2 separate regions of the Homo sapiens genome follow, and region 1 is linked to region 2. Evidence: fine-mapped QTL for protein levels in blood plasma. Region 2 holds a variant in brackets. A gene starts in the other region. All regions are shown on their forward strands. Region 1 holds the start of LAMP2 (lysosomal associated membrane protein 2). Region 2 overlaps A1CF (APOBEC1 complementation factor).

Evidence for each region. PIP is the chance, under the fine-mapping model, that this variant and not a neighbour inherited with it causes the effect. The UK Biobank Pharma Proteomics Project read protein levels with antibody pairs (Olink). The fine-mapping took linkage between variants from a reference panel, not from the people measured, so its PIPs are less certain.
Region 1: LAMP2 starts here. The variant in region 2 is fine-mapped to the plasma level of the LAMP2 protein (UK Biobank, PIP 0.94).

Annotation. Positions count from the first base shown.
Region 1 is chrX:120,466,941-120,469,852 of GRCh38, forward strand. It overlaps LAMP2 (lysosomal associated membrane protein 2), which reads right to left and starts at 2,356. Exons shown (of 9, transcript NM_002294.3): 1 at 2,166-2,356. The coding sequence starts at 2,229. RefSeq lists a silencer at 2,294-2,558.
Region 2 is chr10:50,812,411-50,815,331 of GRCh38, forward strand. A1CF (APOBEC1 complementation factor) reads right to left here. Exons shown (of 13, transcript NM_014576.4): 10 at 1,447-1,628. Among named protein-coding and RNA genes, the nearest start is that of A1CF, 72 kb to the right of the region's middle. The variant C/T (reference allele first, on the strand shown) is at 1,602.

The DNA of each region.
Region 1 (2,912 bases), not on the chromosome of region 2:
CAAGCGATTCTCCTGCCTCGGCCTCCCAAGTAGCTGGGATTACAGGCATGTGCCACGACACCGGCTAATTTTTCTATTTTTAGTAGAGACTGGGTTTCACCATGTTGGTCAGGCTGGTCTTGAACTCCTGATCTCAGGTGATCCGCCCGCCTCAGCCTCCCAAAGTGCTGGGATTACAGGCGTGAGCCACTGTGCCCAGCAGAAAAGGACAAATACCTTCTTAACCTTATTCCGAAGTTTTGATTTCACAGACGCATGAAAAGGTCCTCGAGAGTCACTGAATTAGATAATCAAGAACCCTTCCAATACTATGGTTTTCGAGCAGGATTTATCAATGTTGGCACCATTGACATTTTCAGGGAGATGATTCTTTGTTGTCAGGGGCTGCCCTGTGCTTAGTTAGGATGTTTAGCAGCATCCTTGGCCTCTACCCACTAGATGCTAAAAGCAATCCCCCAGTTGTTACAACCAAAAATGTCTCCAGATGTTGCCAAATGTCCCCTGGTTGAGAATCACTATTCCAGGGTGTTGATTTCATTCTACTGAAATGTGAATTACAAAATGTATACCTCTCACTGCTTTCTCAGACCCCTAATATGTCTATTTCTTCCCCACTCCCATCTGGGTCTGTTCTTTATGTTATTTTATTAAGTCACAAATAGCAAGAGCAGGTGGGTAGCAACAAGCACAGCATGAATCAAAGTCAGGAAGAGACACTTTAGTCAAAGTTCACTTTTAGGCATTAAAGTTGTTAGCGACCCACTGCCTATTAGGGCACAACACAATCAGCGAACATTCACCCAGCCATTTATTTATTGATTTATTTATTTTTATTTTTTGAGACAGAGTTTCACTCTTGTCGCCCAGGCTGGAGTGCAATGGCGCAATCTTGGCTCACTGCAACCTCCGCCTTCTGGGTTCAAGCGATTCTCCTGCCTCAGCCGCCCAAGCAGCTGGGATTACAGGCATGTGCCACGACGCCCGGCTAATTTTTGTATTTTTAGTAGAGACGGGGTTTCACCATGTTGGCCAGGCTGGTCTTGAATTCCTGACCTCAGGTGATACACCCACCTCGGCCTCCCAAAGTGCTGGGATTACAGGCATGAGCCACCACGCCCGGCCCCATCCAGCCATTCTTAGGCCCTGGTAACAACCCAATCCTTAGCAAGTTTGTCTACCTGCTCCCTGCACCCCCAAAATATGAGGTAATAGGCTAGCTGTGTGATGGGGAAGAAAGAAAAGAAGAAACTCTGAAGGCAAAGAGGTAGTCTACCAAACTCAAATACTCCACCCCCAAAACCTCACATCTGGGAGGCCCTCCTAACTGAAACGTCTGGGGATTTTTTTGTCAGCGTCTGGCTGGGAGGAAGTAGCAAAACTGGGAGAAAATCGACATCCTCAATACCTCCAAGTCAGATGTGCACTCCCCATCAAAGTTCCCCCTGAACCCCTTAGTCTCCAGAGGTTGGGTCCAAGTTTTCTTTCCTGGAAATTGCCCCAGCTACCTTAGGTTCCTTCGCCCTTAAAACTATGACTACCAAACTCAAACCCAGCATCACTCCTAATCTCTTGAATCATCCTTTCTTCACAGTCTCAAATTCCAACCTTCAAAATGCCCAACCCTGTCACTGCCCCTGCCCCTCAGGCTCTACTGTCCTATCTGTCCCATCTGTCCCCCACCCACACACTTCTCCCAAGCTACTCCAGGCAGGCATGGTCTTCTCTCTTAATTTCCTATCTCACCCCATAGTTTTTCCACCATCTTCAAAACTCTTCCCTGATCTCAGCAAACCAAGACTCTCCTAATTGTCTCTGGCGCCCAAAATCTGCATGTACCACCCTCCTACGCTCACTCCTCAGTGTTTTCCCCAAGTTACTCTTTCCACGCTGACCCTCTCCACGCTTCACTCCTCCCAGCCTACTCCCTCGGCGTCCACCCCCCGTTACCGGCCCCTTCTTACTCTCCTGGGCCCTTCTTCCCCGCCATCCGTCGGTCAGGCCTTCTCTAGGTCACCGCTTGCCTCCCCGGGCCAACCGCCGCCGCCCAGTGTTAGCTGCTGAGCCTCTCAACCCCCTCCCCCTCGGACCAGTCTTTCAGGTTGTAGCTTTGAACTGGTGCCCCGGGCCCAGGCGGACAGACTAATCGGGAGGGCCCGACAACTCACCCAGGACTAGGCAGACCAGAACGAGCCCTGAGCCCGGAACCGGGAAGAGGCGGAAGCACACCATGACCCCGCAGAGCAGGCGGCGACGGCGGCGACGGCGGCGGTACAACAACAGCTGCAACACCAGGGAAAAGGCTCGCTGGACCTGGGTCAAGAGCACTGATGACCACCGACCACAGCCTTGCAAAAGCCAGGAATCGGCGCTTCAGTGCGAGTCATAAGACTAGGGGCGGGGCTCTTTCTTGCTTACAGCCAATCTCCGCGCTTGAAAGCGGCGAGAGGGGTGGTGATGTAGCGGCCGGTGGGCGGGGCGACCACGCCCTGGCTTTTTGGTTCACAGCCCTTCCTATGCTCCTGAGAGATATGCGCGGACGGCATTTTCTTTTTCTTTTTCTTTCTTTTTTTTTTTTTTTTTTAATTTTACTTTAAGTTCTGGGATACATGTGCAGAATGTGCAGCTTTGTTACATAGGTATACATGTGCCATGGTGGTTTACTGCACCTATCAACCCGTCATCTAGGTTTTAAGCCCCACATGCATTAGGTATTTCTCCTAATGCTCTCCCTCCCCTTGGCCCCCACCCCTTGACAGGCCCCCGTGTGTGTTGTTCCCCTCCCTGTGTCCATGTGTTCTCATTGTTCAACTCCCACTTATGAGTGAGAACATGCAGTGTTTTGTTTTCTGTTCCTGTGTTAGTTTGCTAAGGATGATGGCTTCCAGCTTCATCCATGTCCCTGCAAAGGACAT
Region 2 (2,921 bases):
GAACTTTTATTAATTGATAGAGATTGTTACTCACATACTAATAAAAGACATGATGAATTTCTAACTTGAGTTTAATGTAAAATGAAGAGATCTCTTTTCATACTATTGCAGCTCTCGGAACTATTATTATACAGAATTTGCGACTATTATTTTTTATTTTCTTAAAATATTTCTAAGTATTCCAGTACTTTAATCAGGTTTTTTGTTTTGGGTTTTAACCTAAGAGAAACTGGATGAGTGGCTTTTATATTTTCTGAACAAACTTCATCATATCACTTCCAGATTTCATTATATGTTTACGTGTCAGTTTTTTCCCACTGGATTGCCATCTAATTTTTCATGATAAGGATTTTGTTATATTCACTTCTACATCTCCAGCACCTAGCGCACTACATGGTGCATAAGAGAAGTTTACTAAATCTTATGTGAACAAATGATTGCTGTTTAGCAGTCTGATAGGCATTTTTTTTAAAATTCCCTGGGTGGGGCTAGCAGAAACCTTAGATAAGCTAATTTGTGCATAAAAGAAAGCCAGAAATCCCATTAAAAAATTACCCAAGATGAGCTTTTAGAAAACCAGTTTTCTTCTGGATTGAAATTATAAGGGCTACTTCCATAAATGTGAGGCTATAAGCCCACCTTTGTCATGGGAATAGGGAAGTTTCCTTCAAGATACACAAACTGTAACTCTGATTATTCAGCCAAAATGTATTTCAGAGAGATCAGCACCTATCACACTCCCACAGGGAACAGTCTCAGGGTTAGCATAGACTCTGTTTTGTTTTATTTTTAACCCCGGGAGTCAGTTTCCATATTGAAACTTTTATAGCTTTTAATTTTCCAATAATAAAAACCACAGGTTAATGTTGAAGTGTGGAAACTTAGAACTGTTAAATGAACACAGTAAAAACTCTCTGTAATGCCACTGCCAAAATATAACTATGGAGGAAGAGTTAATTTGGTATGACTGATGACATCTCATAGTTAATAATTCACCCAGATATCATGGTGGAGTTTTCTCTTAGATACAGTATTTCCAAGAAAAGATGTCCTAAATGGTCTATTCAGGGCACTGCCATAATACTCTTCATTTGCCAGCCAACCTGGCTCACATACAATAGGCATTTATTCTGAGATGGGGTCTTTGCCTCATTTCGGGTATGGGTTGATAATTCTTAATAGCTCTCAGATTCTTTGCATTTCAGTGGAATATTGTTCAAGGTGTTAGACTTTATGATTTTTTAAAAAAGAGAAAGGACCTATAATAGAATAATGGCACCAGATGCCCAGCATTCCTTCAAAGACTGTGACATTCATTGGATGCTTTATATATTAAAAGAAAAAAACCCATAGCTTGAGTAGGGATCAAGTCAAATCATTTGATAAAAGTGAATGATGCTCATTGGCACAACTTAAAGAAACTATTTCTGGAATAACATTACCTACCTGGGGAGCGAGTTTAATTCCTTGGGGTTTTAATGTGACAGGATTCATTGGGGTGAGCTCCATCCCAGGTAAAATGTCATAGAGTTTGTCTTCTCTTTTGTCTCCTTTGACCTGGTATCCTCGACCCAGGCCTGTGTATGCCAAATAGCCACGGC[C/T]GCCCAGTCCTCTCACTCCCGCAGCCCCTACAGGTACATTCATGTAAATTTCTAGGAACGTAAGAAGGCATTAAACTGAATCAAACCACCAGAAAATCACCCTGAATCTTACTGTAATGGAAAAGTTAGCCCAATTCACGTTGATTATTGCCCTGAAGATGGGTGGGAGACTCTAGGATTCTAATGTAATGAAACTCAACATAAGGTAAGGTTTAACATAGGTGTCTCTCTTTTTTGAAAAACTACCTTCAGAAGAAAACAATGCCATTGATAAATACAATACTATTGATAAGTACACAAACAACTTAAAAATTTTGGGATAGAAAATTTGCAATTTTTGTCTTTAGGTAACCTTGATATTTTATACAGACTAATAAAGACTGGGAATGTATTTATTAGAACATTCCAACATAATGCGACCACTTATTTTGAAATCAGTCTTGCATAGAGACTGTCACTGATCAGTATATCAGAAATAAATTCTGGCTTCCCTAATTATCCCACTTCCAATGACTTATTGTAAAACAAACATTTAGAAAGCATGCTTTTAGGTTCACCATGCTCTCTGATGTTCGGTCAATGTGAGGCTTAAATTTCCATTGAGTTTCATGCATAGATTCCTTTTGATTTTTGTTTTGCCATGTTACTACTTTGATTTTATATTGGTGGCATAGAGATAAAAAATTAAATTGATTACCCTTCATCCATGAATATCATTCATTGATTCCTTTCTTGTTATAAGATAGGCATTTTTTCCCTTATAGTGGAGTTTGTTTTTTTTCGACATCATAACTGGTTGACAATTTGTATTTAATGTATGGATTGGTTAATGAGGTGATTTTATATTCTAAATGCATAATGTTGCAATGATATAATTTATTATCACATAGACAAGTTACCTTAAAGGAAATCTTGATTATTTCATTTGCATTACAATTTTGGGGCAAGTAATTATGAGTATGAAACTTTTAAGGCTGTTGAAGACTAGAGCTCCTAATATGATCAATTTAGTTATACTGAAAAGTAGTAAAACATAGTAAGATAATTGTTTCCACAGTAATCTAGATGTGCCTTTTTGCTTCTAAGTCAAACCCAAGAATAGACTTAAATGCACAGTTTATCGAATTGCCCAGATTCATGTCGTATTTGGAGGATAGAACTGGGATTCAGTTGGCATTAGCCACATCCTAGAAAAACTCATCTGAAGGAGCCAAAAAGACAGGGACAAGCTAGTTTCTTGGAAATAGAATAAAGGCTTTCTTTATCTTCTAGCTTTCTTGAAGAAATGGAGCTTGGAAAACTGCTCAAACATTTAGAATT